4 separate regions of the Homo sapiens genome follow, and regions 1, 3 and 4 are each reported to be linked to region 2. Evidence: microRNA targets listed by miRTarBase, many of them from high-throughput screens and not tested one by one. Region 2 holds a microRNA gene; each other region holds the end of a gene's coding sequence.
Evidence for each region. Region 2 holds the annotated microRNA hsa-miR-34c-3p (AAUCACUAACCACACGGCCAGG, at 2,618-2,639, opposite strand). A microRNA usually pairs through its seed, bases 2 to 8, with sites in the 3' UTR of a target mRNA and lowers its output. Matches are read on the target gene's strand: a 7mer-m8 pairs with bases 2 to 8, a 7mer-A1 pairs with bases 2 to 7 and ends in A, and an 8mer does both.

Region 1: the mRNA of DCDC2 is a reported target of hsa-miR-34c-3p. Seed matches in the 3' UTR shown: 7mer-m8 at 1,971-1,977.
Region 3: the mRNA of GUF1 is a reported target of hsa-miR-34c-3p. The part of its 3' UTR that is shown has no 7-base or 8-base seed match.
Region 4: the mRNA of INSYN2B is a reported target of hsa-miR-34c-3p. Seed matches in the 3' UTR shown: 7mer-m8 at 2,259-2,265.

The regions. Positions count from the first base shown.
Region 1 is chr6:24,170,985-24,175,152 of GRCh38, reverse strand. It overlaps DCDC2 (doublecortin domain containing 2), which reads left to right. Exons shown (of 10, transcript NM_016356.5): 10 at 319-3,398. The coding sequence ends at 423. Among named protein-coding and RNA genes, the nearest start is that of NRSN1, 47 kb to the right of the region's middle.
Region 2 is chr11:111,511,955-111,516,122 of GRCh38, reverse strand. MIR34C (microRNA 34c) reads right to left here and starts at 2,684; the gene lies at 2,608-2,684. BTG4 (BTG anti-proliferation factor 4) reads left to right here and starts at 3,737. Exons shown (of 5, transcript NM_001367975.1): 1 at 3,737-3,942. It overlaps HOATZ (HOATZ cilia and flagella associated protein), which reads right to left and starts at 1,345. Exons shown (of 6, transcript NM_001100388.2): 1 at 1,113-1,345; 2 at 571-612; 3 at 13-83. The coding sequence starts at 1,338. MIR34BHG (MIR34B and MIR34C host gene) reads right to left here. Exons shown (of 2, transcript NR_147706.1): 2 at 2,235-3,105. It also overlaps MIR34B.
Region 3 is chr4:44,698,376-44,702,543 of GRCh38, reverse strand. It overlaps GUF1 (GTP binding elongation factor GUF1), which reads right to left. Exons shown (of 17, transcript NM_021927.3): 17 at 1,616-4,000. The coding sequence ends at 3,863. It overlaps GNPDA2 (glucosamine-6-phosphate deaminase 2), which reads left to right. Exons shown (of 7, transcript NM_138335.3): 7 at 1-749. Among named protein-coding and RNA genes, the nearest start is that of GUF1, 22 kb to the right of the region's middle.
Region 4 is chr5:169,860,855-169,865,022 of GRCh38, reverse strand. INSYN2B (inhibitory synaptic factor family member 2B) reads left to right here. Exons shown (of 4, transcript NM_001129891.3): 4 at 564-3,720. The coding sequence ends at 750. The region is part of intron 27 of DOCK2 (dedicator of cytokinesis 2); the gene reads right to left. Among named protein-coding and RNA genes, the nearest start is that of INSYN2B, 120 kb to the left of the region's middle.

The DNA.
Region 1 (4,168 bases), not on the chromosome of region 2:
GTATAACTAAATTGAAGAAAAGCTCAAAGAGAAATCAAGAAAAAATGAGAAAAATAAAGCCTGCAGCATACAAAATGAGTCAGGGCCTTTCAAGCACTAGTAGATTATGAACCCCAAAAGGACTTTTGTACAAGTGTTGAGAAAACAGTATGTCCACTGGGTAATGATAGACAAAAAAACAAAGGGAACCCCAGGAACTCTTTTTAGTTAAATATTTATATAATTAAATAGAATCTTGAGTAATTTTTTCTTTATAAATGTCATTACCTTTGTGAACCAAACAGCTGAATACCTTTGTTTTGATCTATTTTCTTCTAGGCTGATGTAGACCCTCAAAGACCACCAAGGCCAGAAGTAAAAATTACCAGTCCAGAAGAAAATGAAAACAACCAACAAAACAAGGACTATGCTGCCGTGGCTTAGAACATTTTTAAAAAGAGAGTATATGGATCGCAAGAAAAATGAAGGGTTATCATACTTGAAAGATAAGCACATAGTTATTGCTGAATATAATGTGACACTATGGTCGAATACTACCTACGAATTATAACATTAGAAGCCTAGTGGAAAGACCAGATAACTTTAAATGGCTACTAAAGGATAATTACTTACTTTTATTGCATGTGTTTTAAAAGTCATATAGAAATATTAAATAAGACGGACAGAGGAGAATTTGCACTGGAAGACAATTGCCACTTGTAAAGGATGAAAAATAGGATCACTCTTATTGTACGCTTTATTATAAGTTTAGAAGGCAGTTTATTCTAAATAATTTTTCTCTAGGAAGGCGTAGAATTTTAAAGAACTGGTAATAGGAAAGCATGTACTATTTTCTTAAAGCAATAAACTCTTGAATGAACAGATTGCGATTTACTTTCAGACATAATTTGGAGATGGCAGTAGATCAAAATGTGTCCATGACTTGTTAACATGCCTTTCTTTCTTCCTCCTTAGCCAAAATCCACCTTTGAACTACAAAGACAGAGCAAGGCGTTCATTTTGGTGGGAGGAAGCATTGGTTCAGAGTGTTAGTGACTAGTATCGCCATGCCGTCACTTAAATGCTTTCAGGCTTGCATGCTTGTGGCTCCAATGGCGCACACTCAGGAAGGAATTGTAAAGGAGCACCCAGTTATATTATAAAGCCTGGATGTATGGTTTGCAGATAATGGAAATCCTGTGGATTTTCACTGATCCAGTCTATCTTTACCAATAGTATCTCTCTCTTCTCCCTTATGTTATTAGAGAACCTGATATTGGCTATTCCAAAGATTAAATTATTTTCAAATAGTTTTCAACAAAAATAAAAGTGTATTAGGAAGAAAAAAGTAGACTATATGAAGAGTTTGTGACTGCTCAATTTAACTTGTTTTTTGCCTTATTTCTATTAAGACTGTTTTACTATGTTTTTGCCCTAGGGATATCAGCAAATATTTATTTTTCCTAGCATGATATAGTTAGAATTTCAAGCAGATTTCTTTGTAATTAGAAGGCATCTGATAGAAATTGTAAAACTTTAGAAGTTATTATAATGAAACCAATTCCTGAATCACAACTTCATGGACTGACTAAATTGATTTATAGTTGCCTTGTGAGGTATGTATGGGGAAAACATAAAAACATAATTAAAACATAATTTCGTCCTTTTTATGAATTCTTAAGAGATGTTCTTCCATAAATATAGAAATAATATATTTTTCTTAAAGGATATATTTTTAATTATGTGGAAGTTGTAAGCTTGAAATTTTAACTTCTAGTGCTTTTCTAAAATTCACAATTACAAGTTTAAAACATTTTTTCTCTTCCAGGTTTCATTTGGAATAAAGAGTTGGCAGTTATATAAAGCACTTAATAATACTATAGAAAATAGATGTGTTTTTTCTTAATATGATTTTGGTATTTTCCACAGATCAGAAGTGTAAACAGAGAGATAATGTAACAGTATTTGGAAGAGATAATGACACAAGGATATAGTGATCTGGGAGCATGAATTAGAAACAGGGTACTATGTTTCTGGTGTAAAATCTAAATTGTGCTTTCTACTAGCGTTACTTTTTCAAATGGGATGATATAAAGCACTGTGGGCTATAAGCAACAATCTTGGGTTGGTAGGCAAATAGACCAATTGATCTTTATTATTATTATTATTATTATTATTATTATTTTTTGAGATGAAGTCTTGCTCTTGTCGCCCAGGCTGGGTGCAGTGGCATGATCTTGGCTTACTGCAACCTCTGCCTCCTGGGTTCAAGCACCTGAGCCTCCCGAGTAGCTGGGATTACAGGCATCTGCCACCACACCTGGCTAATTTTTGTATTTTTTGTAGAGACAGATGTTTCACCATGTTGGCCAGGCTGGTCTCAAACTCCTGACCTCAGGTGATCCGCCCGCCTTTGCATCCCAAAATGCTGGGATTACAGGTGTGAGCCACAGCACCCGGTCCCAGTTGGTCTTTTAATATTAAATTTGTGCACTATTACTGGGTCTGGAGTTAATGATTTCAAATAGTTTCTAAAAATAACTGATTAAATGTAAGAAATTATAACTAATTATCAAGGTGATTCTCTTTTGTTTCTTCAATGGAGAGTTTCTCTTTCTCTTTTCCTCCTCTAATAAAAATATTTCTTTTTTTCCTGTCCTTTTATTCATTATATTATGAAACTTAGGTTTTAGGAAACACCTTAAGCGTCATTTTAATGAAGCACAACATTGATATTTTACATGAATAATAACGTTTGGTATTTTAAATATACTTCAAGGGGGTAATAAGCCACAATAACTGTACCAAAAAAACTTAAAAATGGGGACATATTCATCCCTTGTGTGTGCATATTTTACCACTTGTTGACAAGATACAATTGTGACCTACTTTGAGGGGATGAATAACGACTTATCACTTTAAGACACTTTGCAAACATGTTACTAAAAAAAGGTGCCTAGCCAAGGAAAAAACCATTCACTTGGAATTAAAATTGTGGATGTCACTTCAGAGATGACTTTAACATAAATGCTGAAAGTTCATTCACCTCACAAATGTGGCAGTTTTCTCTGTGGAGAATGGTGGTCTCCGTGGCAGACTGGCTCTCCAAATTAAATGAAACTCATTGACAGACCTGGGACCTTTTATGTGAGTGGACAGACAAGATCTTGGTTTGGCTTCATGTACTGTTTTCTAGAGAGAGTGCTACGAAAAACTTATGATGCTTTTATGTGATAACCAATATAATGCTTTAATATGTTAATTCTTTGTGATGCTATATACATAGTTTTTATAGTTTTATGAAACCACTTTGTTAAACTTATCTGGATTTTAAGACACTTGTAAACAAATGGTTTGTTAGTAAAATTGGGGCATTAAGAGTTTTACAGAGCAAATAAAGAAGATTTTGACAAAAGTCATTTTGAGGCTAAGGGTGTTTTACCTGGGTTAACTTCTGTTAAAATAGCTATTGAGTGCCCATTGACTTATAAAATACGATACTATGACCATAAAATAACTTTTTACTTCTTATTCTTCTCTATGACCTTAGGATGACTTTATTTTTTTAAGACATTTTTCCTATATGTTTTTGGGGGAATGTTAGGTTGCCACACTCATAGGAAAAGTGTGATGCTATCATGCCTCCTGTTTTATTGTAAAGGTGTGAATTCTTGCTATGTGGTGTGTGAAGACAGAACTATCCCATACATACGTGGTTCAGAGTGAGATATCTCTAGGCTCACAGTTGTGAACCCATATTAATATGGTATTATTCCTGCCAACTCTTCCAATTTATAGCTCATAAACTAACATCCTAAACATTGTCATTGAATGACCTACCTTATACACAAAGGATAAAGTTCATTCACCTAGAAAAAAATCTGTGCATTTAAATTAGTGGCCGCAAGACAACAGGAAGCTTTCTTTCATTTTTTGTTCAACAAACCTTGCAAAAGCAAAGTTTAAAAAGTAGATTAATTCATCAACAGAAAGCATCACATGGAAACTGTGGCCAATCTGAAGAGAAATATAGCATGTAGACATAGATATGTATCAAATACTTATACAGATGCACTCACACACTTTAAAACATTAAAAAGGCCTCCTGAGGCACAGCGTTATTAATAAAACAAGGCTCTTTTGGGTGAAGTTGAGAGAAGCAATGAGTTAAAACGTGAGAGGAAATGCT
Region 2 (4,168 bases):
ATATTGGCCTACCTTTTGGAGATACTTTACTTTCTCCTCAGATTCCTGTATCTTTAGGGCTTCGGCAAAGATGTCTCTATTTTCTAGAGGGAATAAAGTCAAATTCAATCTGAAATAATTTTATTATGATTTTATACTAAAATTGATATAAAATTGGACATGGGTTGAAAGGGAATACATAGAGTAGGAAGGTAAACAAAAATACATGTGGTGTATTGGAACTTTACAAACCAGATTTGCAAACAACTGGAGACTGAGTTAATTAGCTATGGCTGCAGGGAACCTCTAATCTCTTTAGATGATGAGTAAGCTCGAGTCCAGAGACAAGAAAAAGTCTCGAAAGAGAGCATATCTGCAGGATCAGAGATTCCAATTTCTACATTCCTGTTCAAACTGTTAAAGGAATTTAGGCATTGTCCTCTGGATAAACAGGGTGGTCCCTGAGCAGGGACTTAGGTGTTCAATTCAGAAAGTTATACCACAGTGTAAAGTAGTACCCTTGTACTTATTGTCTATTTTCTGATGAACCTAGGAGTCAGAATGTTGAAAGGCATAAAACTTGGTACTTACTGTTACTCGCAAGGTGAAAAGACTGCGAGGAGTGGCTGTTTTCTAAAAAATACAAAAGGGAAGTAAAGAAATCATTGGAAAAGTCAACAACATTAAAGGCGTTTGAATTTTTTATACTATAACAATTGCATAACAGTTTCCACATCCTAGGCCTCACTAAGGGCTCACAGGTCCAGGAAGTTCATTGGTAATGTTGACTCCACCTTCATCTTTCTCCAGGGCTTTTCATGTTTGAATTAAACTATGTAAACTATCCTTTCAGCCAACACATAGCATTTCCTCAGATTATTCTATACTGTTTACCAAATAGATGCCATAATTTAAGGGAAACTTATATGTTTTTAGATGTAACATATATACCACTGATCCTTTTCGGGTGGAAGGGTTGCTGGAAGGGTTCAGGAAATATTTATACATGCATTTGTATGTACTTATAACTATTTGTATATACCATTGCAGTTTCTCCTGGAAAGGGCTCTGGTACCTGCAGGCCAGTTACGGTGAGGCAGATATGACTGACAGGAGGCCGCTATTCTACTCACCAGACCCTCTGCTCCTCCTGGGCCGCGCCACCGGCAGACGCTGACTGCTGTCTCTGCGCAGCACCAGCTGAGATTCGCTAGGGGGATACATCGACGCCGAGATCCAGAACTGCTTAGCCAAGTTGGCATCTTGTTCCGAGGAGCCAGCAAATACCAGTAATCCCGGGGGGCACATTTCCTGGGACTCTTTTCGGCCGCTAGGTTCTTCGCTGGGTCCCGTTTCCATGGCAACTGAGGACGCTTCTGCAAGCGTCCTCTCCCCTCCCCCCGCCCCGCCCCTGCCCCGCCCCTCCGAGAACCGCCAAGTTGGTACCAGCCCCTGCCGGCTGCCCTCGGTTTCCTAGGTAGGTGTTGGGATCCGCCACGCGCGTGGGGGCCGTCGGAAGCCCACCCCTGCGGTGATCAGGTTTTAGGACCAGTCCAAATCTTGGATATGGGAGAGTCAAAACGTCAACTTTGGGTTGTGTCCTGTCGGAGTCAGTGGGGGAGTAGTTTAGCTTCTTATATCCTCAGTGGGCTGCCACATCCTCTCCCCTCCCCCCAGAAAGATAGCTAAATAAACTTTAAATTCCTCAGCCCCATTGCCCCAATCCCCACTTCCAAACCAGATTGCCAGGGACAGCACCTGCTAGGTGGAAGTTCTGAGAACGTTGCGCTGGAGAATTCACGCCTGAAAGCCTAGCCCTTGGGAGCTAGAGGCCTGAACTGGGCGGATACGTGCCCATGTGTACAGTTTCTGTGATTTTAAAATTCTGAATCCTTTAAATCTTAGGAAACAAGCTGGATTTAAAGTGTAAGTGCATTTACTAATCACTCCCACTAAAAGTTGCATAGACTCCAACAGTTGTAAATGATTACTTAAAAGAAGGGATACATCTTAATGAGTGAACAGAGTCTCTTCATGGAAAAAAGAAGTATGAAAAATTTTGTTAATGTATTTCTTATAAAAGTATTAACAAGTCTGTGTGTATGAGTAGCTTTCCCGGGAGATTTTTGTCATGGCAGGAACAACTTAACCACTTCATTGATAGAAAAGTTAAGATTACTGTGGCAGGAACTGAGATGGACATCATAAAGTCAATTTAGCAAAGGAAATGGACACATAGCAATAACCACAATTTATGTCTTTATGGCACTTTATTCTTTCGAAATATTACTAACAATATTACTTTCAAAATATTACTAACAATATAGTCTCAAGAAGTTAATAATCACATGTTCATATAATAACATACATCAGTCAGCTAAGAAAAAAATCATATTCCCCCTTATATCTAAAATTTTGGTTAAGAGCCTGAAGGAATATTGAAAAAAAAACAAAACAAAACCCCACATACATACACATTACATACATTGTAAACTTAGTAGCTGAAATGTTGATTTTTTTCTTTTGGCTGAGCAATTAATAGGCAATGGATGAAATCAGCATTTTCCAACACCCCTCTTCCCCACGCACATTGATGATGCACAGGCAGCTCATTTGGACGAATTCCCAAATCTTTTTACCTGGCCGTGTGGTTAGTGATTGGTACTATTAGCAATCAGCTAACTACACTGCCTAGTAACTAGACTCATAGAAAAAATTGCAGTCTCAAGTTGGTACCCCAACACGTTGTGACAGGCAGGCAATTCATTGGTTGAGTTGGAGCTCAACTGAGTTGCTAGCTTGGTGAATACTCTACTAGACGATGGCAAATAGACACAGTGAATCACAGCATACAGTATTAACCGTTACATGGATGGAGGGGCTTCACCTCCAGGGATTTTGCTTTCCTGGCATGAGACTGTTTCATCTTCTGTGACTCCTAGAGAGAGCTAACAGTTTAACTGTATCTGGAGAAACCGCGGGTTTCCTCGCACTTGCAGCGGGCGCTCGCGGGGCAGGCTGCGCAGGACCCACGCCGACGCCGCGCTTCTCAGGCATCTTCTCTCGAAGGCTGCGGGCTGCCCGAGCCGGCGTCTTCTTCCCGGCCGGGCGGCGGTGATGCTGTGCCTTGTTTTGATGGCAGTGGAGTTAGTGATTGTAACCACCACAGTACAATCAGCTAATGACACTGCCTACAAACCGAGCACCGGGCACCCGCGGCTGCAGCTCCCGGACGGTCCGCAGCGCCGACGCGGGGTCGGGGCCCGCCTCGGACCCCATTTCACCGGGGGACGCCCTACCATGGCTGGGCGCAAGCGGCCCCCGAGGACACCCCCGGGCCCAGCGGGACCCCCGCCGGCCTCGCAGCGCACAACACGCGTAGCTGGGCCAGCGGGCGGCGCTGCCGGGGAGGACCCGCGCCCTCCCAGGCCGGGAGCCGCGCCCCGACCCCCATGACCCCCAGGAGTGCCAGGCCTCCCCTTCCCGCAGCCTCCCGCTCCTCTCAGGGCCCTCCCGCTCAGGTTCCCCTCGCTTTTCCTTTCCCCTTCGCCTCCTCGGCCCGGGCTCCCACTTCCTTCACGCCAGGCTTCAGTTCCCAGCCCCAAACCCTAGAGCTGGCTCTCTCGACCCCGTGCGCCCCGCCGCTCTGAGCGGCCGAGTGACTGTGGCGGGGGCGACCAACCGTCCTTGGAACCCCGCGGGCCGAGGGGCGGGGCGGGCGCGAGACGGGGCGGGTGGGGGAGGGGATGGGGGGGGGGAGGAGGCTGAGAGAAAGCGCTGTGGGCGGTCCCTGAAGGGCCTCCAAGGGAGACGCCTAGAAGATGGAGGCCCAGATTCTTGAGACGTTTCTCTTTCTGATCTAGCAGGAGGGACAAAGAGCTCCTCCACTCCCTCATTCCCCAAGAAGGCCCCCAGCCTACCCAGTTTCCGTGACCATTCCGCCCTGGGAAAGCGGCTTCCCAGGTACCTCAAATTATAGGTTTGAATTTTCCAAATGGAGGTGGGCTTGGGTAGCCTCTGACATATGGGAGGATGGCTTGGAGAGTCTCATCTGCACCTCTGTGCTCTGTTGGGGACTTGGCCTTATACTCTTAGAGGGCCATGCAGTGATGTGAAGCCTGGGCCTTCTAGTCAAATAGTGAGCCAGGCAGCTTGTTAGTTACATCAAATCGTGGTCCTCTTGAGATCA
Region 3 (4,168 bases), not on the chromosome of region 2:
AAATTTGAAGAGATGACAGTGCCTAAAAGTACAGTTTACATCCTTTTGGAAAGTATGTGTAAGTGCATGTTTTTTGTGCACCTTCTTCTATAGCACTTTTTTACAAATATCTTATTTTTATTTAACGACTTGGGTTCATGTCCCTAATATAAGTATCTTGACAATTATGAGCTTTATACCTAGCAAGCCACTTCAGGAAATTCTTTTGGAGAATATTTTCTGATTATTGTTAAACTTAATATACAATTAGCTTTATTCCTTATAAAATGTCTAAAAGAATAATACGAAGTATATATAAAAGGAATTACTGTAAACTACATTGCCATAGCAATTTACATAAAAGTATATTGTTTTTTATCTTTAACTCAAATAAAGCGTGTAATAAATAAGTTATCTAAATTTCCAGAAGTGAACCTGAAGAATACATGCATTCGACTCCCAACAATTATAGTACATGTGAACCTGCATTCATTTTGGGTTTGTTACCATCATGCATTAGGAGAGTTAGGTTAAAAGATGTCTTTGCCTCTGTGGGGAGCAAAAAAATGCTCCTTTTGCTTATTTTGCATTTCATAAGCCCACCTGGTAGAAGAAGCCTTACTTATCTGCTTGTCTATGTGATTAAAATGTAGTTTCTTAAAATATTAAAATAGCAAATAAATTAATGAAATAAAATTGGTAATAGGGTTTTATGGTTAAAAGTGGGGGATGGGGTAAATTATGCTGCTTTAATTCCAGATGATGTTTTAATAGCCTTATAAATGTTTTTTAAATAACTAGTGAGTAACACTCCACTTACACTTCCAGTAATAAGAATCATTTACTACAAACTATGCTGACTACCTTAGAAAGTCATACAGCATCACAGTGAAAAAGCTAAAGGTACCTGTTGTGCTACATGATTCACCAGTAATTTCTCTGCTTTAAAGGTCTAAAAATTCTCCTTTCCATTTTCCTTCCCTTGATGTTAGGGGCTTAGTTGAGGTTCATGTACTCAAGCTCCTCCACAAGCTGAGGAGCGAAAACTCTGGCCATTTTCATTCCTGCTTTCATTCCCTAAATTGAGGAGCTAAGCTGCTGTTAGGCAAAGAACCTAGCTTTTTCAAGAAACCAACCACTGAATCCCAGCTCTGTCAGGGAAATAAAAAAGTCTCAGCTACTTCCCCAAAATTTTTACATAGATTGAATAAGGGAAGCATACATAGCTCAGCACAGTGGTTGTCACATATTAAAGTCAATAAACGGTGCTATTTTAATATTGATAACAGTGTTTAAACATATTTCAGTGTTTGCTAAAATCTTAGTAATATTAAGTCCTCTGAGGAATGCACTTATAAAGCACACAACTCCAAATCACTAAAGTCATCTGACTGGGAAAGCGGGAAGGGGAAAGAAATTAAGCTTACAGAAAATGCTTTTTTGTACTACAACTAAAACTATAACTAAAACTACTTTTTTGTACTACTATAACTAAAGAGTCATAGGTTAAAAAAAGGTAAAATTAGTCTGAATAAAAAAGACTAAGACTGGTAAATTATTAAATAGCAAGCACATAGTACATATTACGTTCCAAGAACCAATTTGTAACTTATCCTTTGGCAGTGATAGAACAGAACACTTTTACAATTTTTTAATTTCAAATACTGTCATTTTCAAAATACTACTGTCATGGTCTTTCAGATTTCATCTGTTTTTATCAGAACCTGGAAGAGGGAGGGAAGATACATAAGATGATAATGTATGTATCTAGGACTATATCACAGGCTACTTCTACACATGATTTTAAGTAAATCTCCACTTAATTTATAATTAAAATGATTTCACAATAACTGTAAGCTCAAAATATCTGAGACAGCTCTCAAGTCAGTTTAGAAAGTTTATTTTCCCAGGGTTAAGGTGTGCCCATGACACAGCCTCAGGAGGTCCTCACCACATGTGCCCAAGGTGGTTGGGGCACAGCTTGGTTTTACACATTTTAGAGAGACATGAGACATCAATCAGTATGTGTAAGGTGTACATTGGTCTTGAAAGGCAGGACAACTTGAAGAGGGGCGGGGGCTTCAAGCATAGGCAGGTAAGAGAGAAAGGGTTGCATTTTTTTGAGTTTCTGATTAGCCTTTCACTGAATATACAATTTACATGTGAGAGGAGAGTAGAGGAATAGTCAGTTATACCTTAATCTGGCTTAGTGAAACATGAAACAGAGAAAGCAATCATTTATGCATTTGTTTCATGTGAAGACTTTGAGTTCTTTGTCCATAAGGAATTCCCTTGTGAGCAAATTTTATCTTTGTGGCTGTCTTATTTAGGAATAAAATGGGAGGCAGGTTTGCCTCAATCAGTTCCCAGCTTGACTTCCCTTTGGCTTAGTGGTTTTGAGATTTTTCTTTCATATAACCTTAGTATAAAATTCATCCTTGATAGTGTTTATCCCTAAAAGACATTTTCTTCATTCAATTCATTCAAGGTAGAAGATAAAAATCAATGGCTAAATGATGTTGTCTTGCTCTAATACAGTCTGCAGTCTGGTTTGTTCGTTGGCTGAATAAACATGGGAGCTGAGAGCTCTGGAGAAATACAGCCATTTACTGGCTGTGAAATCTCAAGTTAACTACTCTAAAATCGCTTCGATTATGAAATTTAGACAATAATTATTAAAATGTCATTATGAGTTCCTGGTAATACCAAACACCTGTCATTTTACACAAATGCGTTTTGAATGTCTGAAAGACAGCTCCTGCCCTTAATTTAGATGTAAACCATTTAGTTTCAAACTAACCACCTGATAAAATCTATAAACATTTTATCATTAACTAGAGCAGATGTCTGTTATTTGATGTCTATGTTATTTGAGTTTACTGTTTAATAAGTGAATTCATATCAATTAATCCTGCTAACAAATTTGACACTTAAGGTGATTCTGAAAATCCTTTAAACTTAAAGTAGATGGAATCTTAAGTATGGGGCCTTTTAGTGTCCGTAAAGAAAAACTGCATGCAACAAAATATAGCAGGTCCTCACTTGTTGAGATTCATGGAAATTGTGACTTTAAATGAAATGACATGGCTGGGCATGGTGGCTCACACCTGTAATCAGCACTTTGGGAGGCCACGGTGGGTGGATCACGAGGTCAGGAGTTCAAGACCAGCCTGGCCAACATGGTGAAACCCCGACTCTACTAAAGATACAAAAAATTAGCCGAGCATGGTGGTGCACGCCTGTAATGGAGGCTGAGGCAGGAGAATCTCTTGAACCCAGGAGGCAGAGGTTGCAGTGAGTCGAGATTGTGCCATTGCACTCCAGCCTGGGCGACAGGGCAAGACTCTGTCTCAAAAAATAAATAAAAATAAAATGAAATGACGCATAAACCAATTTTTTTTCCTCATCGATGTTACAAACCACTTAAGGAAATGACATCATTCAAGAACATTGTGCTACGTGTCATTTTGCTTAAAGTCAGTTTCTAAGAACCTTTCGATGGCATTTAAGGACTTAACTGTAGTTACAATTGAGTGCTTACTATGTGTCTTGCACCTCTGAATATTTAACGTATTACCTCATTTAATCTTCACAACAACAACTTATGTAGGTAGTAGTATAATCTCGATTTTACTGAAGAGGAAACAAAGGTTAATCTGGCCACGGTCACCTTACTAGTGAGTGGTTGGAACAGATATTTGAGAACAGGCAACATGGCTTCAAAATCTAAGCTCTTGCCTACCCACTAACTACTCCCTTTCAACGAAAGACTAGTAGGTTATTTGAACCTGAATACCCTGAAAGTAACAAGCAAATTTTATAATTTTCTTTCTGTTGTCAGCATATTACAAATTGCAATGAAAATTCTTTGTTTTCCCACCAATTATTTAGAAGATTGTGTTTTCAGAACTTTTATAAAAGCATCTTTTGGAACTTCAACGTTGCCAATTTTCCTCAGCTTTTTTTTCCCTTCTGCTTGTCTCTTCAAAAGCTTCATTTTTCGGGTAATATCACCACCATACTGAAAAATATTTTAAAACATTGGAAGTCTAAGTCACTCTAAAGAGAAACAATCATATGATTACAGCGGCATCAGTACAACCTTAACAACCATACCAAATTATTATCCATAAGGCAGACATCTCTCTAATCTTCCTAGCAGATCTAATTTTACTGTCTTCTCAAAGAA
Region 4 (4,168 bases), not on the chromosome of region 2:
TGTTAATGATGATGATGATAGCGGTAATAGAAGCTAACACATACGGAGGACTTAGCGCACGCCAGGCACTACTCTGAGCATTTCATTTATATTATCTCAGTTTACACACATTAATTCCAAAGAAAGCCTTTGAGATAGGTGCTCTTATTACCCCCATTTTACAGATAATGAAACTGAGCTGTCAGTTTTCTTGTCTGTTCCTCTGCATTATCTCAATTTTTTAATAATGAGACAGTTTTCATGCATAACACATGCCAAAACCCCATTAATGATTAAGAGAGAGACTGGAGCCAATATTTACAGAACACTTGCCATCAGGTCTCACTGACCCTTAATAACATCCCTGTGAGGAAGGCATTACAGGTGCCAATTCAATCACTGAAGAACTAGAGGTTCAGAGAGGTGGCATCACTTTCCCAAGGTCAAAGAGCCAGTAGGTACCTAAGGATCTAGGATTTGATCCCAAAGCTCATGCTCTTCCATATTAGTTGGGGCTGAGAGATGCTTAATCAGTCTGTGCTGATTCGAATTCACTTTCCTTCCTTCCTCTCTGTGTTTTTCAGTGTAGAGTATGATTTTCGGCAGCAGGAAGGCAGGTTCCATGAAGTTTTGCAGAGTCTGGAGGAAGCAGAGCCAGTTGAGGAGGCATCGCCCCCACCAAAGTCCCCAGCAGAACCCCCAGCCCCGGAAAAGCAGGACTTAAGGCGGAAAACCAAGAAGGTGAAAAAGAAATGCTTCTGGTGGATCTGAGCTGGTTGGGACCATCCCCCAGCCCCCCAACTCCACGCACTTCCCTGAGATGGGAAATCCACTGCACTTAAGGCCTGCCCTGCTTCTTTGCAAAGGCCCTGGGCTGTGAGCCCCTTGGCCTGTGAAACAGAAGAGCCTTGGAGCTGATGTAGCCGCTGCTGGACACCTGACCACGATCCTTACCTGAGTGCGTGCGACTGCTTGCTGAGGGCTTCACGGACACTAGAGTGACCGCTTGCCAAGTTCCCTGTCACACTCAGCCAGAACTCATGCTGAGTTTTAAGACCAGATTCCCACCACGAGCAAAACCCCACACTACACCTTCCAACACCTCCAAGATGCCAAGCACTTCCTTCCCATCCTGGGTTCATAAACCCAAAAGAAAAAAATAGTGTTGTGCAGACCCGGAAGGTAGAGGGAGGTTATAGGTTATAAGCAGGTACCATAGAAAAAAATGAGATAAACTGGCAGTTTTCTAAGATATCAGCATACATAATAAGCACAAGAGAAGTGGGCAGGGCATAAAATGCTTATGCAAGATCACCCTGGTGTGTTGGGTTGTTTTCCTTTTTAATTAGCCCCTTGATCCCAAATTAAGGCTCTGTCATCTCATGGTGCATGCACCTTTCTGCCTGTGGCAGAGTCAGGCCACCCCAGGGTATAAACTTGTTGGTGTGGCTGTGCTGGATAAGTGTAATTCAAAGAGGATTTCAGCAGCTGTAGCTGTTCCAGGGCCCACCCTAAACCATCATGCTTCTTCTCTGCCTAGGGCCTGAGACCACCTGGCAAATGGGTGGAATCTGTTTTTGGTGTGAACTTTAAGACTCCATAGTTAACTTACCTGCAATATTTAAAATCATGAGATCCAGCAACCTGTCCATCAGTTACATCTTATGAGTAACATAGATAAGGCTAAGATAAAACACAACACTGTTTCTCATCCCTTCATCCCAGAAACAGCCGTGTAGATAGGTTCAAACATATATTAATCGACACAGTCTCCCTTCCTGGTGACCAGACAATGGTCACCTGATTGAAAAACTAGCAGGACTATGGATGAGGATATAGTTTTTTCTATTTGAGGTTTAAATATCTTTCCATCCCAAAGTCTGAGTTATTCAAGGTCTGGCTCATTCTGTTGACAAGACCTACATACATGTGGATCCAGTCAAACTTGCATGGCTGAACAAACTACTAAAGTAATATAATTAAGTAATTGCTATATACTCTTGTGGATGAGGGGTAGGATGGAAAGGCTCAGATTCCTTCTGGTTGAATTAAAATCTCTATCAGCATGTGGTTAGATTGACATTGCTAGAAAGGGAGCCTGAAACTAAACATACATTAAACGAAGAAGGTATTTTGTAATTCCCTTGGCTGAAGATCCAGTGTCTAAGCTAGAATCTTTGCAGAGCACAGAATCCTGTGTGTTCGTGGGATGTACCTACCCCACTGCAAATTGAGCCTAATTGAGCAAACCACTCCGATGGTTTCACCTTCCCCTGTCATAGTGATGCAGTGAACAAAGCTATTTCAGTGAGAATGAAAGGGAAATTTGGCAAGGAATATCAGCTTGCACTATTTAAGTCTTGGAATGTCATTCAAGATGTTCTTGTTCTGTTTCTAGTGTAATGTTTAAGCCCACAGAATCAGACCGGAATATATAACGTCATGTTAGAATTAAGATAAATACACTTGTCATACTTAAGAAGCCACATTTCAATAAGATATGCTACCACTGGCTAAAAGCCACAGATTTTTTTTTTCCTGTATCCATACGATCAACTGTCAGTTGGCCCCAGCAATGGAAAAGAACAGAATAGAGGATAATCCAATAAAGTGAAATCATTTGGGACCTCTTATGTAATTTTATCTTGTAGTAGAGCTTCCATCTTAATTTGCTTTGCTTACGCTAATTTCATGTGAATTTATATTCTCGGGCATCATGCTAGAATGTAAATAACCCTGTTCCCAGAATTAAGAGATCCAGGCAACCAAGCAGTCTATACCACTAGCCTTTGGCAAATGGCTTAAATTTCCCGGCCTGTTTGTCCATTCTTGAATACAGATAAGAACATATGCTTTCCTACTTTATAAACTCTTAGCACGTTCCACATTATGTGAGCTGAGTGACTCAGAGCTGAGCTGGATTACTGGCCAAAGTTAGCCTGGGAAGATAAAGAGATGTTTGAGGTACCTCACACAAAATTAATAAGCTGATGTGGTCATAGATATGTTTCCAGTTGAGGCCCTCACATGAACCCTTAACTGAATTAAATAAAACTGGGACTAGAAAATGTTGACATTTTCTGCACTTCCCCAACAAAAAAAAAAGAAAAGAAAAGAAAAGAAAAAAATAAATAAAATGTTGACATTTCTAGAAATACAGCCAAACAAGGCTGTACTGATTCTACACCAAAGCACAACACCGCATTGCTTGGGCCACTGACCTGAAACTGGGAAGGAGTTCTCTTCTGAAAAATTGATATTTAAAATCATTATGAGGAAATAGGATTCCATAAACATTTTCCTGATGAACAAAAATGGTCGTCTCTATGTTTAAAACACCACACACACATATACCAAAACTGCATACTCACTTATTCATGTGAAAATCACTGCTTCTTTGTAAAATATTACGTAACATCTACCATGATATTCTACAGAAATGCTGTACTTGAGGTTATCTGGTTTGCTGGAGAGATATTAACTTAGCAAAAATTACTTTTATAAAATTGAAAGGAAAAAGACCAATACATCAACTTAAATTGCAGGAGTTTATGTAGCTGCTTTCTCTGTAGTTTAAAAAGCAATGCATAAATGCATACTCACTATCCTTGGAACTTAATACCAGCTCATCTATAGAGCACCTTCTTAAAGACGATGTACTGATGTAAGGTTTTGTAAATTTCTAAACTGTTTTAAACGGGATATTATCTTTTGCAATAAACTTACATATTTTTTCTAGGTTTTAAGACTCCATTACTAGCTTGGGTTGATTTCAGTTATAAAATGTATGCTTAAGAAGGACACCTCAATGGTCCTAAGGGCAAGTATGGCTTTCATTATAATTGCTTCTATATATTTCTAAGGGAAATAAATAAAGAGCAGATTCAGAACTTAGTGTCACGATGATCACATGAAGCCCCGCGTGTCCCGTGAGTGAGGGAGGCAGCATGAATAAATGGAGAGCTGCTCCCAGCCTCATTCCATGGATGTACAGGCATGATTTGTATCATTATACTCAGACACCTGAACTCTAATTTATCCAGTACTTTTCTTTATTTCCCCCTTAATTTTTTTCCTTAAAAGGCAAATTTATATCGCCAATGTGAAGAAAAACAATATCATGTTCCAAAAATAGAATATGAAATAAAAATATCTTATTAAGTTCTTGCTAAACCCTGTTGCTATTGAG